Homo sapiens: one gene and its partners. The protein of the gene in region 7 purifies or fractionates together with the protein of the main gene of each other region. This does not show direct contact. Each region holds a gene or a part of one and is shown on either strand. Other genes may lie near its edges. The genes, in order: UBXN2A, PLBD2, LCP1, POC1A, UGT2B7, ASTE1 and MYH11.

Region 1 (3,500 bases), on a different chromosome or scaffold from region 7:
TGAACTATAATTGTGCCACTGAATTTCAGCCTGGGTAAGAGTGAGACCCTGTCTCAAAAAAAAAAAAAAAAAAAATTAATAAATTGGGAGTCTGAGACTCTTCTGACTTGGGAGACTGTCTGATTTCTTTTTTAAAATCTATAAACAAAAATTTAAAATAAGTGTATAAGAATCTGAATATAAAAACTACATCTTAAGAATTAAATAGGGCTGGGTGCGGTGGCTCATGCCTGAATCCCAGCACTTTGGGAGGCTGAGGCAGGTGGACCACTTGAGGTCAGAAGTTCAAGACCAGCCTGGCCAATATGGTGAAACTCCATCTCTACTAAAAATACAAAAATTGGCCAGGCATGGTGGCTCATGCCCGTAATCTCAGCTCTTTAGGAGGCTGAGGCGGGTGGATCACGAGGTCAGGAGATGGAGACCATCCTGGCCAACATGGTGAAACCCCGTCTCTATTAAAATACAAAAAAAAATAGCCAGGTATAGTGGCGTGCGCCTATAGTCCCAGCTACTCAGCAGGCTGAGGCAGGGGAATCGCTTGAACCCAGGAGGCGGACATTGCAGTGAGCCGAGATCACGCCACTGCACTCCAGCCTGGTGACAGAGTGAGTAAAAAAAAAAAACAACAAAAAACAAAAATTAGCCAGGCATGATGGCACACGCCTGTAGTCCCAAGCTACTCAGGAGGCTGAGGCGGGAGAATCGCTTGAACCCGGAAGCAAAGGTTGCAGTGAACTGAGATTGCACTACTGCACTCCAGCCTGGATGTCGAAGTGAAACTCTGTCTAAAAATAAATAAATAAATAAATAAACAAAAGAATTAAATGTGGCTGGACACAGTGGCTCATGCCTGTAATCCCCACACTTTGGGAGGCCCAAGGGGGCAAATCACTTGAGGCCAGGAGTTTGAGACCAGGCTGGCCAACCTGGCAAAACCCTGTGCCTACTAAAAATACAAAAACTAGCCGGACGTGGGAACACACACCTATAATCCCCAGCTACTCGGGAGGCTGAGGCACGAGAATTGCTTGAACCTGGGAGGCAGAGGTTGCAGTGAGCTGAGATCATGCCACTGTACTCCAGTTCAGCCTGGGTGACAGAGTGAGACCCTGTCTCAAAAAAAAAAAAAGAGAAGAAAAAAAAAGAATTAAATGCATAATTAAAAATTAAATTAAAAATTGCACATTACAATTTTATTTTTTAAAACATATATTTCATGGTCAAAAGGAATTTGAGGAGAAAAAATGCAAAAACAAACAAAAAACTGGCCACTTTTTTTTAGATTATGGATTTGTATCAAGGTATTATACAATCAGACATGCTACCTTTATATAGAAGCTTACGTTTCTTTTTAAGGATAAGGCCATTCCAGGTATTAAACACGAGGGAAAAGAAACCAATGGATCACATTTCCATGTTGGGTTCCTTTTACTTAGATCTTCTATGGAATGTGATTAGGCCCCCAAGCCTCCAAAAGCAACCAACTATGATAGCATCAGAACCAAATACTTAAAAGACAGTTCATTTGTATATTTTGTGAATTCTGGTTTACTATATACTAAGTGATAGAAAATGAAATCTTTTGGAAAGTTTCAGCTTATTTTAGCTGTAATCATAGTAATGAAGAAAATATATTTTTGTCCTTTCCTAGAAATTTTTAATGGGCTACTTATATACTCCAAGGACCAAAGTGGTAGTGACAACAGTAATTTAAATGAGAAAATCCTATGGGAAAGGTGACACTTAGGCAGAGACTGGCAAGGTTACTTATTGAGTCATTCCAGGGCTGACCAAGACATTCCCATTCCAGGACATTCTCATTCCAGGGCTCCATACTGAAATGTTATCTTATGTCACAAAGGGCCCTCCCCCCTTTTTTTTAATAAGTATTTTAATTCAGTTTCAGAAAAAAGTGGTACATGACTTGGATGAGAAAGCAAAAAATTAAGAGGCTTTTCTAGAAATGCAAGAAAAAAAACTTTAATATATTCAATAATTTTCTGGATCTTCCTCTTGGGTCAAAAGCTATATATTTTCTCCTCAAAGCAGCTGCTCCAAGAACTAACTAGTCCTCTTTAGCTCTCTCTAGCTGGGACAGACTAATTCTGCTCCACTCCCACCTCTCTTCTTTCAGTAACACTGCGTAGGTGTTAATGGCCTGGCTCTCACCAATGAACAGAACTGTCCTTTAAGCCAGCAACTCACAGGCAGTGGTGCCCAAAGCCTCACCCCCAGTCCCCAGGGCAGAAGCCACAGAGCTGGCATTGTTTCCAATATCCCAGGAAGGAGGAGCCAAAAGCTGACCTTCAGCACAAATCAAAGCCCAATATGGAGAGAGAATAACTGCTTCTAGGCCCAGATTAGGCAAGCTGTGGGCAAAAAAAGGGGAGTTTTTGCAGCCACCCCATCTTTAGAAACAAGGGGAAAACTAGACCCTTTTCCACCATTACGGTCTACAAGGTACTGTACTGTTCCAAGGGGATCTGAAAGCGCAAAAGAATCTAAACAAATAAGGAGAACTTTTCCCAGGGTGGAGATAAGACTGACAAACTGAAAGATGGGTGAATACAATAATGTGTAGGAAGATGATGCTGGTCACCTCAGTTCTTCACACAGCTGCCAGCCCTACAAATAACACAGTAAGAACCAGGACAACCACTCCAGACTGGTATAGCTGGGGAATCTTCAGGCCTTTTCCTAGGTCCCACATCAAGTGTTGGATCCCATTCCAGGTATGATACATGAGAGGGAAGACGAGTGCAAACTTAGTTGTGTCCATCAGTGCTGGCCCCAGACACAGGGACCAATGAGTTCCAAGTAAGACTTAAACTTTCCTGGGAGTAACAGGGCTGACATGCCAAAAAGAGACCCCTGTGCTCAAAGCAATACCAGAGCCATGGTGGCAGATGGACATCGACATAGGAAGACACCAACTCTAGATAGTGACGTGGGGAGATACGGGACGGTTTGAACCTGTGTTCTTATTCCAGAACCATTCCATCTCTTCTTTGGCCATGATTCCCAAAGGAACAGCATTTCTGATACAAAGCTGAGGGCTAAAGTGCGCTCGGAGGCAATGACCACTCCAACATGTCTCAGCAAGAGTGCAGCCATCTTGGGTTCTGGTCTGGACGGAAATGCAAAGCTCATTTTAAATATAATCTCCTTTAGCTGGGCACGGTGGTTTAAGCCTGTAATCCCAGCACTTTGGGAGGCCAAGACGGGCAGATTACCTGAGGTCAGGAGTTCGAGACCAGCCTGACCGACATGGTGAAACCCTGTCTCTCTCTACTAAAAATACAAAATTAGCTGGGTGTGGTGGTGCATACCTGTAATCCCAACTACTTGGGAGGCTGAGGCAGGAGAATTGCTTGAACCCAGGAGGCAGAAGTTGCCATGAGCCAAGATTGGGTCATTGCACTCCAACCTGGGTGGCAAGAACAAAACTCTATCTCAAATAAATAAAAACATACATACATACAATCTCCTTTAGAAAA
Region 2 (3,500 bases), on a different chromosome or scaffold from region 7:
TGAACTTCGGGCTAATTATTCACATAGCATCACAGATAAGGACAGAGGAAAAAACAAGGGGAAAAAATTAGATTTTTAAATTTCAAGGAGAATGGAAGACAAAGAGTTTGGGCTTGTGGGTCCCTCCGACTTGGTCTGAATCCCTGGGTAGATCCCTTACTGGTTGTGTACCTTTGGGCAAACTGCTTTACCTCTCGGGGCCTCGGTTTTCTCATCTGTAAAATGGGCAGAGTGACTCCCCCTTCAGAGGACTGCTGTGGCATGTGCCAGGAGAGAACACACATTATGCACTCACTAAGTATTTGTCTCATCAAGAATCTGAGAGGAGATGGCGCAGTGGCTCATGCCTGTAACCCCAGTGCTTTGGGAGGCTGAGGTGGGAGGATCACTTGAGACCAGGAGTAAGAGACCAGCCTGGACAATAAAGCGAGACTCCCCTCTCTACAAAAAATACAAAATAAATTAACCAGGTGTGGTGGTGCTTGCCTATAGTCACAGGAGGCTGGGGCTAAGATGGGAGGATCGCTTGAGCCCAGGCTGCAGTGAGCTATGATCACACCACTGTACTCCAGTCCAGACAATAGAGCAAGATGCTGTCTCATTAAAAAAAAAAAAAGAATCTGAGGGGGTAGGAGTTTGAGGAGACCCGGCGAGTGTGATGATGGGAGGAAGATTATAACAGGGCCCAATATGCAGATCCCCTCGTGATAAAAGCTGGCAGTGGATCAAAGGAGACCTCGGACAAACTGCGTAAAACCAAAAAAGCTGTGCAGCCGCGAGCCCCAGTAGTAACTGAGCGGCCAGTGGCCTCCTCCAGGGCACACCTGGTGAGAGCTACCCCTTCTAGCAAGGGTGGGCTCAGCCAAGGCCTCGGCACTGAGGCCCCGGAGACGGGCAGTGGTTAGGAACCCATTCCCTGGCCGGATGCTCATACAGCCCTGCAGAGATGGGCATAAAGGCCCTTCTTCACAGCAGGACTTCTCTTCAAAGCCAGAAAAGACGGGCCTTCCCGAAACACCCATCATTAGGGGCCTGATACAATAATCACACATGCCATAGCGGACTGCATGTGCTGATGAGCAAAGAGGTCAGAGATGAAGTTCAAAAAAAAGTCGAGAAGTCCAAATGGTAGGCACGAACTAAGCCCCTGTGTAAATGCATCACACACCACATATGCCTCTACATTTATATGTATGCAAGAAGGTTTAGGCCTCTTTATGCATAGAAAATTCTGGAAGAAAGAGCTAAAAGTCCGGGTGCAGTGGCTCACGCCTGTAATCCCAACACTCTGGGAGGCTGAGGCGGGTGGATCATGAGGTCAGGAGATCGAGACCATCTTGGCTAACATGGTGAAACCCCGTCTCTACTAAAAATACAAAAAATTAGCCGGGCGTGGGGGCGGGCACCTGTAGTCCCAGCTACTCGGGAGGCTGAGGCAGGAGAATGGCGTGAACCCGGGAGGCGGAGCTTGCAGCGACCCGAAATCGCGCCACTGACTCCAGCCTGGGCAACAGGGCGAGACTCCACCTCAAAAAAAAAAAAAAAAAAAGCTAAAAATGTTTATATCTAGGAAGAATGGTAGGGGGAGGCTTTTACTTCCCATATCCCATCCCCTCTTTCTAAACTGCTAGAAATTTGTTTTGTTTTGTTTTGTTTGAGATAGGGTCTCACTCTGTCACCCAGGCTGGAGTGCACTGGCGTGATCACAGCTCAGTGTAGCCTCACCTGGACTCAAGCAGTCCTCCCGTCTCAGCTTCTGAGTAGCTGGAACTACAGGCACGCACCACCGTGCCCAGCTAGTTTTTTATATTTTTTGCAGAGATAGGGTCTCACCATGTTGCCCAGGCTGGTCTCAAACTCCTGGGCTCAAGCAATCCTCCTGCCTCGGCCTCCCAAAGTGCTGGCATTACAGGCACAAGCCACAGCGCCCGGCCAGAAAAACACTTTAGAGTGTGTCTATAACTAGATGTGCTTATTAAAGACTACTCTTCGGCCAGGCACAATAGCTCACACCTGTAATCCCAGCACTTTGGGAGGCTGAGGTGGGCAGATCACCTGACGTCAGGAGTTCAAGACCAGCCTGGCCAACATGGTGAAACCCCATCTCTATTAAAATTACAAAAAAAAAAAAAAAATTAGCTGGGTATAGTGGCTCACACCTGTAATCCCAGCTACTAGGGAGGCTGAGGCAGGAAGATCACTTGAACCCAGGAGGCGGAGGTTGCAATGAGCCAAGATCATGCCACTGCACTCCAGCCTGGGTAACAGAGCAGACTCTATCTCAAAAAAAAAAAATAAATCAAAAGAAGATTACTCCTTATTCAGAGAGTATGTCCTTTCTGCTTGTTTGCTCTAAAATTGCCAATCTTTTATGAGATAAACGCTGACAGGGGTTGACAAATATTGCTCTCCTTTGTTTTTAATGCACTTGCTTGACAAAAATTAAAAGTTGGCAGCAGTAGGTCTGTTTCCTCAATCTTTTTTTTTTTTTCCTGGAAAATCTATGGGCCAAATTGCAATTTCATGCCAGGGGCAGCTAATGTCTCTAAGATGACTCAAGAGTCTAATCAAGGTGCCTCTTGAAAGAGGCCACATTGGAAAAAGTCAGACCACTGATATGAGCAGGGGGCCACAAATATCTCACAAATATCAGCACCCCACTTCCGCAGTCTAGTATGGCCTTGGATGCTCTCCATTATGTGGGATGCCCCCCATAACTGTGTCTATCACTCCTATCTCAGCCTTTTTTTTTTTTTATTTGAGACAGGGTCTCACTCTGTTGCCCAGGCTGGAGTGCAGTGGCACAATCACAGCTGACTGCAGCCTCGACTTCCCAGGCTCAAACGAGTAGCTGGGACCACAGGCATGCGCAACCACACCCAGCTAATTTTTTACTTTTTTTTTGCAGAGACAGGGTTTCACCACATTGCCCAAGCTGGTCTCGAAATCCTGGCCCCTCGCCATCCTCCTGCCTCGGTCTCCCAAAACATTGGGATTACAGGCATGAGCTACAGCGCCTGTCCTCCTTTCTCATTCTTGATGGTATAGATTCATCTCCTGTGATTGTTCAAAGAAACAGCTGGGCCTTATTTATCCATTTTACTGGGCTGTTTTTGCCTGTTGGTTGGTGGATTTGGGATGCTTCCCCGTTTACTAAATTTGTTAATTCCCTCTAACTTTGATTCACTTCCTCTCTCAACGGGATGGTGATTTACTTTAAGCAACCTCGTCGATAAGGTGCTGGTCAGTGGGATCAGATCAGGGAAGGAAGACAAAGTAAGGTTGGAGGATACAGCTTCCCCAGGACCAAGGCCAGAGCTAGACTGAGGCAGGCTCTGCTCCTAGTGACATCTCTGATCTCCAAGCACCAAATCATAAATGTTTCCAGGCTGTGTGGGGGTGTTGGCCCAAAGTCAAGATATGGCACAACTGAAAGAAGGTACCGAGCACAGTGGCTCACATCTGTAATCCCAACATTTGGGGATGCTAAGGTGAGAGGA
Region 3 (3,500 bases), on a different chromosome or scaffold from region 7:
TTGATTTGGAATAAATTTGTAAATTTATTCCGAAGGCTGCCATCCAACAGCCATAATGGAAACTTCCAACAGGCCAAACAGTATAGTTGTTGCAACATTTCCAAAACTGAATTATTCAAAACGTTAGTTGATCTTAAAGATAAACTCATGAGGCCGGGCACAGTGGCTCACGCGTGTAATCCCAGCACTTTGGGAGGCCAAGGCGGGTGGATCACCTGAGGTCAGGAGTTAAAGACTAGCCTGGGCAACATGGTGAAACCCCGTTCTACTGGGTGCAGTGGCGCATGCCTGTAATCTCATCGACTCGGGAAGCTGAGACAGGAGAATCGCTTGAGCCCAGGAGGCAGAGGTTGCAGTGAGCCGAGATTGCACCATTGCACTCCAGCCTGGCGACAGAACAAGACTCTGTCTCAAAAAAAAAAAAAAAAAAAAAAAAGATAAGTCATGATTAAATACCATCTATAGTTGCTAAGACAACGTTTGGCCTTTTGTTTTTAAATACAGGAATTTTCAGAACCTTTGCTGGGTCAAATGTGCAATGTGAATCTTTAAGGCGGAGATACATTCACTACACAGTATTTCCCAAACTTTTATGACTCAGGATTTCTCTGAGGGACACTACTGTTTTCAAAAACTGTCAGTTTGGGAAACATAGTGCTAGGCTGTGAAGACATAACTTGAGTTTTTATTAAAACATCTAAAAATCACCTTCTGGCAGCTTTACTGTTAGGAAAAAAAGATTATATCCAAATGATTTTATTTTATAGCAATTTAATTATAATTGTATCAAGAAACTCAGAGGTACAATAAGGATTGTCCACAGTGATCCAACATTTAAACCAGCAGAGCTAAAAGCGGAATCCTGAGTTTTGTCCTGTAAGCATTATACCACATTTGTATTTATATGTGTATATATATATGTATACATGCACATATAAATAAAATATTTTTATTATTTATGTATTTATATATAGAAAATAAACATATGTATATATTTGCTTCTAAATGTAAATATATATCTGGATTATGCGTATATATAGGAACAGAGAGATAGTTTTGGCCGGGCGCGGTGGCTCACACCTGCAATCCCAGCACTTTGGGAGGCTGAGGTGGGCAGATCACGAGGTCAGGAAATCGAGACCATCCTGGCTAACACGATGAAACCCCGTCTCTACTAAAAATACAAAAAATTAGCTGGGTGTTGTGGCGGGCGCCTGTAGTCCCAGCTACGGGGGAGGCTGAGGCAGGAGAATGGCGTGAACCAGGAGGCAGAGCTTGCAGTGAGCCGAGATCGCGCCACTGCACTCCAGCCTGGGTGACACTGTGAGACTCCATCTCAAAAAAAAAAAAAAGAAAAGAAAAGAAACAGAGAGATAGTTTTTAAATCTGTTTGCTCTATGTTTTATGACTTGGAGTACACAGACTCAATGCCTATTTCCCAAGTGATCTGAGATTTTTAAATCTTAATAAATATGAGATGATAAGATAATGGACTGAATAAACTCACATCTCTCTGCTGGGAATGAGAATTTAAGATCCACATGCATAATTTTGTTTATAATAGAGTTTCACTTTGCAAATGAGTCACTTTAATCATTTACTTGCAGAGGAAGAAAAGTATGCCTTTGTCAACTGGATAAACAAAGCCCTGGAAAATGATCCTGATTGTCGGCATGTCATCCCAATGAACCCAAACACGAATGATCTCTTTAATGCTGTTGGAGATGGCATTGTCCTTTGGTAAATAATACTTCTTTCTTGGTTTCCAAAGAATTGCCCATTTTCTAGACCATCAACAATTAATCGTTATTTATCGTAGGCCAACTTTGTTTGGTGCTCAGCTGCACCTAGAAGGCTTTTCTGGACTTTCACTTGGCCAGGTCCAGGACAGCAAACTAAATTCAAAAACAATTTATAATGAGAAATGTAAAATTGCTATTGCTTGAGTGGAGAGGAGGGATAAACATTATAGAGATAAACATGGAAGATATAGTTATACCAAGTCAAAAGCATTAGATGTCTAATCAATGTATTAGATAATTAAGTGGGGGAAACTTATAAAATACTGATTAAATAATGACTATAGAAGGACATTAAAAAGTTTATCTGATGACAAGTTTAAAGTATAAAGTTGGATCAGGCATCAAGCGGAAATGTAGACATTATGTAAGCTCAGAAGTACATAGATAGTCTCTTCTATAATGAGGACAATTTTCCTGGTTATATATTTTTGGAATATATGCTGCTTGGCTTCATCTGAGCGTGGCTCACCATGAAAGCAGATAGAATTGATAATAGCAGCAGGATGATGGAAGAAGTCCTTAAACTGTAGTCCTTAAGCAAAGAAACCTTTGAGTGATGCACAGAAATCCACAACTCAAACATTGAGGACACCTGGAAAAGGGGGACTGCATCCTACCCACGGGAGGCCTCTAAATATGGTGCTGCTCAATGCAACGTGGTGTCTTTGAAAATACCTCTGTAGCTCTTGCTTCAGCAGGTTCTCTGTCATCACAGGCCAAGTTGTAAGTGAAGTGACTTGAGGTGCTCAATATGTGAGGGACTCAGGACTTAAAGGATAACAATGGGTGGGAAAGACATTGAGCTTTCTCCTCTGCTCTGACCAGAGCAATTCTACTTTTGATATTTTATTTATTAGTTTGTCCTGAGAATTCATTTTTAAAAGGTTCAATTGCTATAAAAAAATCAAAATTCTAGCTTTTAGGTTGCCACCCAAGGCACCCCATGGTCTTCCCCCAATCTGCTAGTTTTACCTTCTAAGACCCCTGTGACTCATTGGTACTCAGCCTAGGGCACTGAGAAGGATATAAAAATGTTATCATATGATTAGCTGAAGATACAAAGTTTGGTCCTGTGTCAAATAGAAATGTAGACAATAATAAGCTCAGAATTTTGTAGACAGTCTTTTATATAATGGGGACAATTTTCATGGCTAAGAAAATAAAGTACTTATGGTAGAATTACTTTGGTTATCCACCCAGAATTTCCTAATGTGCTAAGAAAATCAGGATAATTTTGCAGCTGTTTAGGTGGGAGAATGAAGTGGGGTCCTCATTTCCAACCTCAATATATGAATGTGGCTTCAGTAGTATTCACCTTTCCCGCAGATAGTTTGAGTCTAGTCAAACGGCATAACTGATTTTATATCTAAACATCACAGATTCTGTTGCTATCTTCTTTGATTATGGTATTGCTAGAATTTAAATTCAACGTTACTGGGCTCTGTTATTCAGAAGACTGCTTTCTTTAATTTAATTGTTTCTCTTTCAGTAAAATGATCAACCTGTCAGTGCCAGACACAATTGATGAAAGAACAATCAACAAAAAGAAGCTAACCCCTTTCACCATTCAGGTATGTCTTCCCACCGTTACCATAATACAGGATTTGTTTGGCATCAATGAGCATCATAACTGCTGAGTCCGCCTTTTTCAGGGGCTCAGACATCATTCGCAAAACCCAGGCTTTGGGCTGGTGACTT
Region 4 (3,500 bases), on a different chromosome or scaffold from region 7:
CCCCCTCCATAGGAAGCCCTGAGGTTTGTTACCAATGCTCTTTCAGACAGAGGCTTCTGGAACAGAAGAGCAGTGGGGCTTGCCTCCACTTGGAGCCCATATCTTTCCTATCCTTCCTTCAGCCTTCTGCTCTGGGCCAGGCCTGAGTGAAGGGCTGGGGCTTGGGGATGGGGCACATCTGCCCAGCTGCCTGGGGAACGTGGGCAGGTGCAGAGGAGGGAGGACTTGGACAGGGAGAGATGGGAGTGGAAGGCGACGAGGCAGGACAGTGGTCAGGAGCACATGCTGTGGTTCCTTTCTGTAAAGGGGGTGGCAATAGGCCTTCCTCATGGCTTTGTGAGGCTCTGATGGGAAAAGCCACAAAAGGGTTATAACACAGGGCTAGGTATGTGGTTTGTGCTACATAAGTCCTGACACTGGGCAGAGAGGATGTCTAGGTGACCCTGGGAGGGTCCAGACCCATCTCTGATGGATCAGGAGCCTGGGCCTGGTGTTCATGGGTATAACAGCAGGTACCCCTTGGGAAGGGCCTTGGATGCCATCTCTGGCTCGGGGTCCCAAAGATGTGGCCTGATTGGCAGTGCTAGGACTAGCCTCGTCATTTAAGGTATGAAGGGAAGAAGGACATCTGAGAGGATAGCGGTGTCCAGAGCCTGCTGGGGTTGGGGGCTGGTGTGCCCCATGTGTCCCAGTGATGGGTAGGTGTCCAGCTGTGCCTGGTATCAAAGTAGGGGCTGGCATCAGAGTGGGGGATGGGTTGCAGAGGTTGAGTAGAAGCAGAGAAGCTGACCCTGTTGGGGTGGAGGGGCCAGCTGGACCCAGGGATCTGGGATGTGAGAATGGCTGAGGTCACATTCTGAGCCCCTATAATTGAGGGGCCACAGAAGATAAAGGTCCACAAAGCAGCCAGAGTGAGAGGTATGAACCCCGTCTCCAAGCATGGGAGAGCTGAGGAGGGCAGAGGCTGGGGAGTGAAGGAGAGTGGGGTCTTGTGAAGAGGGTTGTCAGGAGGTGGAGCAATGCAGAGCAGCCGAGGAGAGCGGTGGGTACTGGGGAGAGGGAGCTGGGGACCTGGAGGGAGCAGGCTTGGCAGAGGGCAGGGGCGGATCTCCATGATGGCAGGGTTGGGGAGGTGTGGATGGACTCAGATGAGCTCCAGGGGCTGAGTCCTGAGTGGAGCTGAGTGTGTGGGCTGACAGGCCCTGCTGGGAGATTGCAGTCTGCTTGTGCTTCTGGCCTTGCCTCTTATGACAGCCTCTCAGTGGGCCTGCAGTGTCTCATCCCTAAGCCACCCCTAGTGTAGATTGGAGGCTTAGCAGGATTTGGAGTACCCCATAAACACAGCCGGTTCCCCCTGAGCTCCCTGCTCAATGCCGTGGCCAGTGGTGGGTGTTCACAGGATAGCGGAGTCATCCCATAGCCTCTAGGCTGACCCTTAGGGGTGCAGTGAGCCAGGTTGATCTGAGCTCCCTGGGTAGGGGGAACATACCTCTCATCCTCTGCTGACGGGAGGACATGGCCAGGTCTGCTCTGGTCTTGGGGCTCCCCAGAAAACCTTTAGCTGAAACTAGGGGGAAACCCTCTACCCAAGTGGCTCCCCCACCCCCATAGGTGCAGTGGAATCTCTTTGGAGGCTCATTCCCCAGGAAGGGCTCCCAGTACTCTGGCAACAGATGCCTGATCCGCTTTCTGTCCCTGATCCCTAGGAAACCCAAGGGAAACCTACGGACACAGTGACGTGCAGTGTCTCCCCTAGTGACTCTGGATGGGCATCAGGCACTTCCAGAATGGCCTTCGGGTGTTGGACGCTGATGGGCTCTTGTGAGAGGATTTGGTTAATGATACTGCAGTGTGTGGCTAGCAAGCCCCAGCCTGCCTGCATCCAGCCGTCCATAGTTGTGCTCTATGAGGGCACTTCCTGTTCCTGCTAGGGTTGTTGGAGTTGAAGCCCACTTGGGGCTTTGGGCTATGGAGGCAGCTGGAGCCATTTGTCTTGCGCTGGCTGACTCTCCTAGGTAAGGAGTTTCTTGGCTCTGGCCTATCACTGCAGAGAGCAGTTCTGATTTCTCAATTCAGCAAGGATTTGGGCTGGTGGAGCCCTGGGAGTGCCAATCCCTGTGGTGGTGGGTTAGCTCCATATGCTCTGAGCCCACGTTAAGACTGTTCAGGCATCTGAGCAGCAGCCCCCATCCCAGAACCTGTAATGTGCTTCGTGCCTTACAGCACGTGCAGGTCCATTATCCAGTGACAGGCCTGGGTGGCCAGCAAAGTAGGTCTACCCTCCATTTCACAGATGCGGAGCATGCAGCCCACAGTCACACAGCTAGAAAGCTATGGGTCTGAGTCTCCACCTCAGGGCCTTTGAGTCTGGCATTCTGTTGACAGGCTCACGCTCGGTTCCTTGCACTTCGGTGACTCTAGTCATTTACTCTTCAGGCTCCCTGGGAGAGGTGGTCTCTTTGGCTGGCTGTCAGCAGGGCTTAGAACTCATAGAGTCCCAAGCTCTCTGTCCGATGGTCTTTAGTGCAGCCCTGCACCCCCGCCTGGCCTGATACATTGTCATGGAGGGTTTTGTCTTTTTTTTTTTCTCTTTCAGAGATGGGGTTGGGGTCTCACTGTATTTCCCAGGCTGGTCTTGAACTCCTGAGCTCAAGCAGTCCTCCCACCTCGGCCTCCCAAAGTGCTGGGATTACAGGCGTGAGTCACCATGCCCGGCCGGAGGGTTTTAAGTAGTTGCAGCTATCAGGGCAGGCCTGTACCCTGTACTGGGTGTTTTGAGACTAAAAGGGTTGATTGGGGTACAGTGGTGCTGTCCCACCTGATCTAGCCAACCTACTCTCCCACTGTCCTGAAGTGAGCATTTACACGGCATTTACACAGAGGAGTGTTTTGGGTGTCCTTTGCTGCTGGTATCAGAGCACTTTTGTGGTATGAATCCAAAGCCTCTTGTCAACCCAGAGCCACCGTGTCACTAGTAACATCAGTTGCGCATCGCAAGAGACCACCCTGGGGAAAATGAGCGGTCCTTTTGTGGAAGGATGTTGGGATGGGGCTTGGCCCTGGCATGGTCTCCTCTAGAGAGGAACCTCCTGCTTGGGCACCCAGGCTTTCTCTGGGCCCTTGGCTGGTTTGCAGCCCGTTAGGTAGTGGGCCTAGGTTTGCCCAAGCCTCTACAGGCAGAGCAGCATGGAGTGGGTGTACTCAGGTCTCTGCTTAGACCACCTACTGCCCACAAGCCATGACTAGTTCTTGGTATTTGGGAGCAGGGGCTGTGGTGGCCTCATCCCTGGGTCCCTGAGGATCTGTAGAAGTTTGATGTTGGTGTATCTTTGACCTGGAGTCAGAGTTCTCTCTTTGGAGTGGAGATGGGATAAGAGCCACAAGCTCACAGCTGCCACCCAGGTGGCAGTATGTGTCATCACTGATATCTGCCATGGAGCCAAGAAGAGGCCTGCGGCTTTGGACTTGAAAAAAAGTGGATCATGCTCAGACATTTGGCG
Region 5 (3,500 bases), on a different chromosome or scaffold from region 7:
TGTCCAAGCTGGTTTGTGTTCTTTTTCAATTATTTCCTATCTTCTTTAAAGGTATTTTTATCATTCATTATCCTTCTTTTTTTGTGATAAAGTATTTTTCAAGTATTCCTTTAGATGATACCCTGCTTATATAAAAAAACATTATTGATAGTAGCTATAAATGCTGAATTGATGGTAGCTGGACTCCACAAGGAATTTTGCACATTGATATCTTTGGGTTTGAAAAAATCAATTATTAAAAATTTAACTTAAAATTATATTTTTTGTGCTTCAAAGACCAACATCAAAAAGTAAAATTTAGTGCACCCAGAGTGGGACAAAATATTTACAAGTTATATATCTGACATGACCCATAATATATAAATAGTTCTTAAACTTAATAATAAGACAAATAGCAAAGTTTAAAAATGTTCCAAGGATTGGATAGACTGTTTTCAAAGAAGATATATGAATGATCAGTAGGCACGTATGAAGATTCTCAACACCTTTAGCCGTAATGAAAATGCAATCCAAGACCAGGATGAGAGATCATTTTACACCCACTAAGAAGGCTGTAACAAAAAGTCAGGGAATAACAGGTTTGGCAAAAGTATGGAGGAATTGGAACCATGTTGTACTGCTGGTGGTAGTCATGAATGAAACAAGTACTTTGGAAGACAGTTTAGCAGTTCTTCATAAACATACAGTTCCCACATGAAGCAGCAATTCCACTTATAGTATCAACCCTAAAGAAAGGAAAACATGTTTATGCAAAAACATGTGTAGCAATCTTCCTAATAGCCACAATTGAAAACAATCAAAAGGCCAATGAACTGATAAGTGAACAACTAAAATATGACATATCTTTACTAAAAAATATTAAACTGCTATAAAAAGAAATGAAGTATTAAAACACACAACAACATGAATGAAACTAAAACCAGAAAAAAAAAACAACAAAAAATTAGCCTAGGTGAAATGTCATTTCACAACACCCTAAACTGTATGATTCCATTCATATGAAATATCTAAAGAGAATAATCTATAGAGAAAGGAAACAAATTAGTTAGACCAGGGCTAAGCGGTCATAGGAAGTGACTTCTGTGTCATTGCAGTTTCTTTTGTGTTGATAAAAATGTTCTAAAATTATGTAATAGTGATGGCTTCATGGCTCTGTAAACATACTAAATATATTTGGATTTTATAACATAAACAGGGGGGTTTTATGCTATCAAAATTAAATCTCATTTTCAAGTCTGTTACAATAATGATAATAATAAAAGTTAATTTTTCAGCAAGAAAATGGTTATACTCTGAGGTGTTTTAGATATCTAATTAAAATATTTTATTATATTATTTCAGGTTTATTCTTCCTTTCTTCTATGGATTAATTATGTCAAATTTTTAAGAAATGTATTTTTTGTATTATCTATATCCTTTTAAAATTATTTTTGTGTAGAAAATTGTTTCACTAACTGGCTATTCTTTAGATGTATGTGTTTCAAATTCAATTTTTAAATAACTTATAAAAATAAAAGCAGATTTCAGATTGGTTAAATCATTTAAATTCTTTCAAAATTAGTCTCTTATAAAAAGGATGAAACTCACACTCACTATTGACAAGAGAAGCTATCTGTAAATACCACCTAGTGAAAAATATTGTTCTACTCACGAAGGATCATTAATTACTCTCTTCAATGCATTCAGCAAGTCTGTACTCGACATTGTGTTGAAGTCCACTCTAACAGCTGCTCCCCTGGCCTTCATGTGAGCAATGTTATCAGGTTGATCGGCAAACAATGGAATCCCCACCATAGGGATCCCATGGTAGATTGCCTCGTAGATGCCATTGGCTCCACCATGAGTTATAAAAGCTCTGGTCTTTGGATGACCTAGGATTGGATGAATTTTAGCAAAATTACTCATAGGAATAAAATGAGATGCACAATGAAAGGCTCTGAAAGTGACAGTGTTTTCCAGCTAAAACACTGAACTAAATTAAAATTGTGTTTCAGACTTCGGAGGAAAAAACACGTACTTGTACTGGGTATGTAACTGAAGGCTATACGGTGTGTGTGACTTCAGACTGCAAAACAATACAAGATTTCCAGTTGGGCTAATGAAAAATTGCATTCTAGATTTCAAAAATGTGCAAAAAAGAAGACAGCAAAGAGATAGGCATGAAGTGAACTCTTATTTTAAGTGCAGTCACAGAGTGTGATATATGGGGTGGGCAAGGCAGCAGGCAGTGGTTTGGTGGTGGTGCTAGGATTGAGGAAGGACAGGTCACACTTCATCGTGAAATGTATCATCACTGTATGATTAAGATTAGCAGTTTAATTCTTCAGAAAATACAGAGTCACTGGTGATAGAAGAGCTATTATTTTTAGTGGCATTTCAAATAACCCTGCGGGAGAGGAAAAAAACAGGTGTAAAGTTGTAGAAATAGGAGACAGAGAGACAGCCCAGGAAGTTATTGAAAAATTTTGTGAGATATAATAACACCTGAAATAAAGATTCCCCCGATTCAGACTATAAAGAATGTGGGTGTATATCATAAAATGCCAAAAATTATAATGTATTCTTTCTCCCTTAAGACTGGAAAATCAATATAAAGAAGTTACATTTTGTTTTTCCTTAACAAATATTCAATAAGCTTGTTTCATGATGAACTATTAACACTCTAATGTGCTGTTACTAATATATTCAGTATTTGTTCACCAGAGTCTTACCTAGAAGGTCATTCTGGGGTATCCACTTGTAGAGCCGAGTATTGAGACCTAAGGTATCTGGTTTATTCCCATCAAATCTCCACAGAACCTGTTACAATAAAGAAAATATTTTATTCCATGAGTGGAATTCAAAAGTTATAGAATGTGAGAACTGTATAAAGAGTAGGAATGAGATCAAGGGATGTTAGTAAATAAGAACTACTCAAAGACTAATGTAAATAGAATACTCACATTAATTTTCTCAACTTTTATAATTAGTTAGGTATATAAGGAAATCATGATTTTCCAAAATAGTACCTTAGAAAAAATCAGATTATCAATGAAAATTTCAAGCATTTAAAAAATTGTTACACCTTTTAAAAGAAAACCTACGTGTGGCCAACCATCATATGAAAAAAAAAAAGAAAAAAGCTTAACATCATTAGAGAAATGCAAATCAAAACCATAATGAGATAGCATCTCACACCAGTCAGAATGGCTATTATTAAAAACTCAAAAAATATCATGATACTGGTGAGGTAGTATAGAAAAGGCTTGCTTATAATCTGTTGGTGGGAATGTAAGTTTGTTCAACCATTGTGGAAGACTGGCGATTCCTCAAAAACCTAGAGGTAAAAATACCATGAAACCCAGCAATCCCATTACTGGGTATATAACCAACGGACTATAAATGGTTCTTTTATAAAGACCCATGCACAGGTGTATTAATTGCAGTACTTTTCACAATAGCAACGACATGGAATCAACCTAAATGCCCATTGATTATGGGCTGAATAGAGAAAATATGGT
Region 6 (3,500 bases), on a different chromosome or scaffold from region 7:
TAATCATTTTCTTTTCATAGTAGAGGATAAGGGGCAAGAAGCAACAATCCTAGGAAATAAGGAATGTTGTGTGTTTTTAGCTGTAAGTTTCTACAGATTTGTTTGGGCAGGGGTGCACAAAATAACATCTGGACCAATTTGAAAATAATAAAAAGGAGGCCCACCTTTTACCAACTAGCGAGGAGCAAGACACTGAGCCTGCCTGGGTACAGGGTCCACATTTCCTAAAAGAAAAGAAACAGACCCTTGACATGCCCCTTCTCTTGGACTCAGGTAAAAACTTAATAGGCTTGTGCTCTGAGAGCTTTCTTATACTGTATTTATTATTCAATCAGAGGAAATACTCTAAACCTGTGTTCATAAAGCAGCAGTGGGACTTAACTGATTTGTTTTGTGTTAAGTTGGCTGTCATATAACAACAGTCCCTCTGACAGCTGTCAAGCTTGAGCCTTAATACTTTAGAAACAGGAATCCATGCTGTTTCATTCTTTTATCTAACTTATTAAAATAGTAAACTAGAGTAGCACGATCTAATAGAACTTTCTGCAGTGCTGTCCAATACAGTAGGCTAGCCTATAGCCATATGTAACTACCTGACACTTGAAGTGTGGCTAGTGTGACTGAAAAGCTGAATTTTTAATTTAAATGGAATTTAACTTTGGCCATGTGTGGCTAGTAGCCACCATATTAGATAGTACTATTCCAGAGTATAATTATTATGCATGTTTATACAGTGTTAGAGCATTCATAATCTTTAAAGAGGATATTCCACTGAAGTATTAAAGTGTCCCAGTGTTTCAGCATTTACTTCACCTGGTATTATATGCAGATGAACTTGCCTCAGTGTATTTAAGAGATATTACTGGCCGGGCGCGGTGGCTCATGCTTGTAATCCCAGCACTTTGGGAGGCTGAGGCGGGTGGATCACAAGGTCAGGAGTTCAAGACCAGCCTGGCCAAGATGGTGAAAACCCGTCTCTACTAAAAATACAAAAATTAGCTGGGCGCGGTGACAGGCACCTGTAATCCCAGCTACTCGGAAGGCTGAGGCAGAAGAATCACTGGAACCCAGGTGGCAGAGGCTGCAGTGAGCCAAGATTGCACCACTGCACTCCAGCCTAGGCAACAGAGTGAGACTCCATCTCAAAAAAAAAAAAAAAAAAAAAAAAAAAGGACAAATTACTATTTCTGCCATCACTACTTACATACTAATTGAAACCTACAGCAGAGAAAAAGGAATAAAAAGATGTATAAGCAAGAATGTAGTGGTTGTAGGTATTTAGATAAGTTTCACTTCTGGGCAAGTTTCTTGTGATGACGTTGCTGCTGTGCTAATAACTGGATAGGTAACATGGAATACAAAATGCAGCTGGCAAAATACACTGTCACAATTCACAAGTTAAAGGAGTAGGTGCCACCAAACAGATGGAAGTTGGCAGTACCCCAACACATCTCACTGCTGTATACTTAAGATTCAAGCCCTCCAGCACTGAGCCTGGCACATGAAGTGTTAAAAAATATTTACCAATGAATGAATGATATTTTGGTGCCTCCACATCTAAGTTGTGATACAATTAATGGGAGTAAATAATCCAAGAATACTTTTTTGTTTGTGTAAACTCGAGTAAACAGTTTGCAAGCAACATGCCACAATATACTCCTGTAATTTCCAGTTACCTACCAGGGCTGTTGATTATGGCAATCAAGGGCCCCACTAGCATTGTGAGCAGTAAGGATTGTAGATGATGTAGCTTTGCTTTGGTCTCGGTGTGCTGCAACCAGTAGCAACTGACAGCAATGGGCAACTTCAGTGAAGTAGGGATTGGCTCCAGAATGGTCTGTTTCACCTTCAGGGTTTCTAACAGAAGCATCTGCCGCCTCCTCAAGGAGAGCTGAAAATACACACCAAGTATCCTGCAAGTTACTTTGGGAAATGTCTGTTATTTCTTTTTTCCACCATAGCATGAAGAGATTTAATGCTACTGAAACTTCTGTCAGCTGTTAAACTTATCTTCTTGTGGGAAAAAAAATCAGCCACACTCACAGCATTTAGAACATTAATAAGATGCTTTATAAATATGGTTGGTTGAATGGGTGTACTGCCTACTCCTACACCTTTACTTATGTCATTCCATCCTCTTTGTATACGCTGGTGAGCATCTTCAGTGCACGTCACCTGGGAAGCTCATTAAAAATTCAATCCTTAGGCCCTACTCCATAAATTTTGATTGACTAATCTGAGAGAGAGCCCAGGAGGAATATACATTTTAACTAGCAGCCCAAGTATTCTACTTTGAGAAACAAAGCTGTATACTCAACACCACCTGTATGTGCCTGTGCAACAGGCATTTGCCTTCAGCATGATGCCATTACTAATTGCCTCCAGAAGACAAACGTTGCTTTTAGGAACCCTATGTGGCATATACTCTATTTGTTTGGGTCCTGTCTCATGTCCCTTCCCTGTTGAATGCTTTATTGTCTTTGCATAAAAGACACACAGGGATTGTCCCAGGGTGGCTGCTTGTAGATTAGAGGTATATTCAAGGGAGATAGGAATATTTTAAGGACTACTTGCATTGTGCTTGGAGTAACACGCCATACTTTTACTTCATGGTTTAGCGTGTACTTCAAATAAAAGCTCAGAAGTAAAACAGCTATAAGAGCACTGAGGTTCTTGTTGAAATAATTTTACCTTAATGAATTACCAAGACCTTGTAAGAACCAGAATGGGGACCTTACAGGTCATGCACTCAGGAATATTAAAAGGTCATCTTCTGGGGGACTTTATAATCAAACTTTAAGAAAAAGAAAAGTTGTATTCCTAGTGTCTGCACACAGCCAGAAAAAGATTTTCTGCTTTCTGGAAAGTTGAGATGGTAATAACATTTCTCAGCATGTAACATCTAGTTAGTAGAAAGAGTGGTTGACAGCTGAGACTAAAGATATTAACCTGAAACAAAACACATCATAAATGACAAAATAGTTTTATCATTAATGCATGAAAACTTTAAATAGTACGATTATTTCTAAATACTGCTTTTAATAATATTGTGATACAAATTTTAAAATTAGAAATATGCAAAGAACTTTATAGTATAACCAATTACCCCTACTGGAAGTAGTTTTAACTACTTAAATTTTAAGTAAAGTGGAAACTAAACTCTTAAACTGGTTTTTAAAATGCACTAAGTAGAGCTAAGAAAATACACCAACTCTTTTCTGATATATATTTAAATTACTGAATTATAGAGCCAAGTTACAACTTTTCATAAACAAAGCAGTCTGGGCTTTGACTTCAGAGATGTTCCGCTCTGCACTAACCCTATGGCTTTGGTCGAAAGGTTTCTGACCTTTTCTACAGTCTGTCTGACTTATCTGTAAAATGGTCATTATAATGACTTGTATAAGATGTTTCATCAAACCCACCAGTCCACAGTCCCTTCCAAAAGGGGAAGTACTCAACTCACAGCCCTTAACGTTAGTTAGGTTTTATCCCATGTG
Region 7 (2,197 bases):
TTAATCCAAGGTGGATTATTTTATTAAATTGAGATGAGGTCTTGATATTGTTGCCCAGGCTGGTCTGGAACTCCTGAGCTCAAGCAGTTCTCCTACCTTGGCCTCCCAAAGCGCTGGCATTACAGGCGTGGGCCACCACACCTGGCCTTCAAGGTGGATTTAAAAAAGAAATTTAAGAGTCTCTCTCACCCAGGCTGGAGTGCAGTGGCATGATCTTGGCTCACTGCAACCTCTGCCTCCTGAGTTCCAGCAGTCCTTGAGCCTCAGTATTGAGTAGCTGGGACTACATGCACGTGCACACTGCCACGCCTGGCTAATTTTTGTATTTTTAGCAGAGATGGGATTTTGCCATGTGACCCAGGCTGGTCTTGAACTCCTGGCCTCAAACGATCCACCTGTCTTAGCCTCTCAAAGTGTTGGGATTACAGGTGTGTGCCAGTGCACCTGGCCTCTGAGGTGGATTTTAGCTCCAGCCAGTAGGACACCCCTGTCTCTCCTTAATGCTGCCATCTCCTCTCTGCGCTGGTTCTCTCTTGAGTTTATCACCTCGACTTCACAGGAAGGGCTGGTCACGTGAGGGGAGACTTTGGGTAGGAGGAAGAGAGTGGGCAGAAGAAGGAAAAATCAGATCTGCCTGCTGCCAGCCTTCACCGTTCAGAAGAAACACTTAACTCTTTTCAGCAACCGCAACAAATAATTATGTTGGGCTCTGGCCATCTGGCCCTGTTTGACCTGAATCGGAAGACAGGTCTTATTTTAGGACATCAAAGAAGAGAGCAGACTTTTGCTCCCCACGCAAGGGTTGGATAAGAAGCCATAAGGATGAACACAACTCAGTGACCAATTCTTTAGTCAAAAGGAACAACTCGGCTGGGCATGGTGGCTCACACCTGTAATCTCAGCACTTTGGGAGGCTGAGGCGGGCGGATCATGAGGTCAGGAGATCGAGACCATCCTGGCTAACATGGTGAAACCGTGTCTCTACTAAAAATACAAAAAATTAGCCGGGCGTGCTGGCGGGTGCCTGTAGTCCCAGCTACTCGGGAGGGAGGCTGAGGCAGGAGAATGACATGAACCCAGGAGGCGGAGCTTGCAGTGAGCCGAGATGTGGCCACTGCACTCCAGCCTAGGCGACAGGGTGAGACTCCGTCTCAAAAAAAAAAAAAAAAAAAAATCAAGGCCCAGAGATTCATGATCACTGAGAAGAGGAATTCGCAAATGACCCTTTTGTTGACAGAGGATGGGAGAGACCCCGGCTGGGAAAGCCCACCTGGCTATAAAGGATGGGACTTCCCGCAGTGCAGCGATCAGGAATAAATACTTAAAGCTGCAGCCACTTCAAAGTAAACACTCCTAGCCCAGCTTCACAGAGAAGCTTCTGGACTTGCAGCCCTACTAGAGAACTCTCCATCCTTCTCTCTCTAGATGTGACCCTTAAGTCTTTTTCTTTTTTAGCACTGTTTTCCAAGCGCTTGACTCAGAAGGATGCTCAAATTCAGCGCAGAGGAGCAGCAGTTTGACTGTTCCCTGTACGCTCCCCACACAGCTCTCTTCGTCACAGTTTTAACTCCAGGTTCAAACCCTGATGGGTTGGCCAGTTGCTGCGACTCATGCCTGTAATCCCAGCACTTGGGGAGGCCGAGGTGGGCAGATCACTCGTGAGGTCAGTTGTTCGAGGCCATCCTGGCCAATATGGTGAAACCCCGTCTCTACTAAATATACTAAATTAGCCGTGCGTGGTGGCAGGCGCCTGGAATCCCAGTCACTCAGGAGGCTGAGGCAGGAGAATTGCTTGAACCCAGGAGGTGAAGGCTGCAGTGAGCCAACGTTGTGCCACTGCACTCCAGCCTGGGAAACAGCAAGACTGTCTCCAAAAAAAAAAACAAAAAAAAATCTGATGAGCTGGGAAGTAGTCCCTAACCTCCACATCAGTGCTCTAGGCACTCTCTTTTTGGCTCTTGGAAGAGTCTATTTGCTAACTGGAAAAGCTTAATGGATAAATTTGCTCCCTTGACCTAAGAAATACATTGTGCCCTGGGCCGTTGAAGCTCCTTGCTTGGCTGTCAGCCTGCAAGATACTCTGTTTTGGCTGAAGTGCTTTTCTTGGAACTGGTTTCAAATCCTAGACCAAGGTTGACACCAACTATACCTGTTACAGGAACTAAGGGACCCCCCTAAAGGTTTTCTTAAAGGGTCT

Evidence for each region.
Region 1: the proteins of MYH11 (region 7) and UBXN2A purify together in Homo sapiens (affinity purification with mass spectrometry; one large-scale study listed by BioGRID and IntAct). This does not show direct contact.
Region 2: the proteins of MYH11 (region 7) and PLBD2 purify together in Homo sapiens (affinity purification with mass spectrometry; one large-scale study listed by BioGRID and IntAct). This does not show direct contact.
Region 3: the proteins of MYH11 (region 7) and LCP1 purify together in Homo sapiens (co-immunoprecipitation; one large-scale study listed by IntAct). This does not show direct contact.
Region 4: the proteins of MYH11 (region 7) and POC1A purify together in Homo sapiens (affinity purification with mass spectrometry; one large-scale study listed by BioGRID and IntAct). This does not show direct contact.
Region 5: the proteins of MYH11 (region 7) and UGT2B7 purify together in Homo sapiens (co-immunoprecipitation; one study listed by IntAct). This does not show direct contact.
Region 6: the proteins of MYH11 (region 7) and ASTE1 purify together in Homo sapiens (affinity purification with mass spectrometry; one large-scale study listed by BioGRID and IntAct). This does not show direct contact.

What each region holds. Positions count from the first base shown.
Region 1 is NC_000002.12:23,943,463-23,946,962, reverse strand, and holds part of UBXN2A (UBX domain-containing protein 2A), read right to left. Parts: intron 1-3,500. UniProt on the Homo sapiens protein: Acts to repress the ubiquitination and subsequent endoplasmic reticulum-associated degradation of CHRNA3 by the STUB1-VCP-UBXN2A complex in cortical neurons.
Region 2 is NC_000012.12:113,361,587-113,365,086, reverse strand, and holds part of PLBD2 (putative phospholipase B-like 2 isoform 1 precursor), read right to left. Parts: intron 1-3,500. UniProt on the Homo sapiens protein: Putative phospholipase.
Region 3 is NC_000013.11:46,154,678-46,158,177, reverse strand, and holds part of LCP1 (plastin-2), read left to right. Parts: intron 1-1,607; coding exon 1,608-1,740; intron 1,741-3,291; coding exon 3,292-3,373; intron 3,374-3,500.
Region 4 is NC_000003.12:52,140,924-52,144,423, reverse strand, and holds part of POC1A (POC1 centriolar protein homolog A), read left to right. Parts: intron 1-3,500.
Region 5 is NC_000004.12:69,106,474-69,109,973, reverse strand, and holds part of UGT2B7 (UDP-glucuronosyltransferase 2B7 isoform 1 precursor), read right to left. Parts: intron 2,800-3,500; coding exon 2,712-2,799; intron 1,872-2,711; coding exon 1,652-1,871; intron 1-1,651. UniProt on the Homo sapiens protein: UDP-glucuronosyltransferase (UGT) that catalyzes phase II biotransformation reactions in which lipophilic substrates are conjugated with glucuronic acid to increase the metabolite's water solubility, thereby facilitating excretion into either the urine or bile.
Region 6 is NC_000003.12:131,016,826-131,020,325, forward strand, and holds part of ASTE1 (single-strand DNA endonuclease ASTE1), read right to left. Parts: intron 1,892-3,500; coding exon 1,681-1,891; intron 225-1,680; coding exon of another isoform or gene 175-224; exon of another isoform or gene 165-174; intron 1-164. UniProt on the Homo sapiens protein: Structure-specific DNA endonuclease that specifically cleaves single-stranded DNA and 3' overhang DNA.
Region 7 is NC_000016.10:15,704,832-15,707,028, forward strand, and holds part of MYH11 (myosin-11), read right to left. Parts: intron 1-2,197. UniProt on the Homo sapiens protein: Muscle contraction.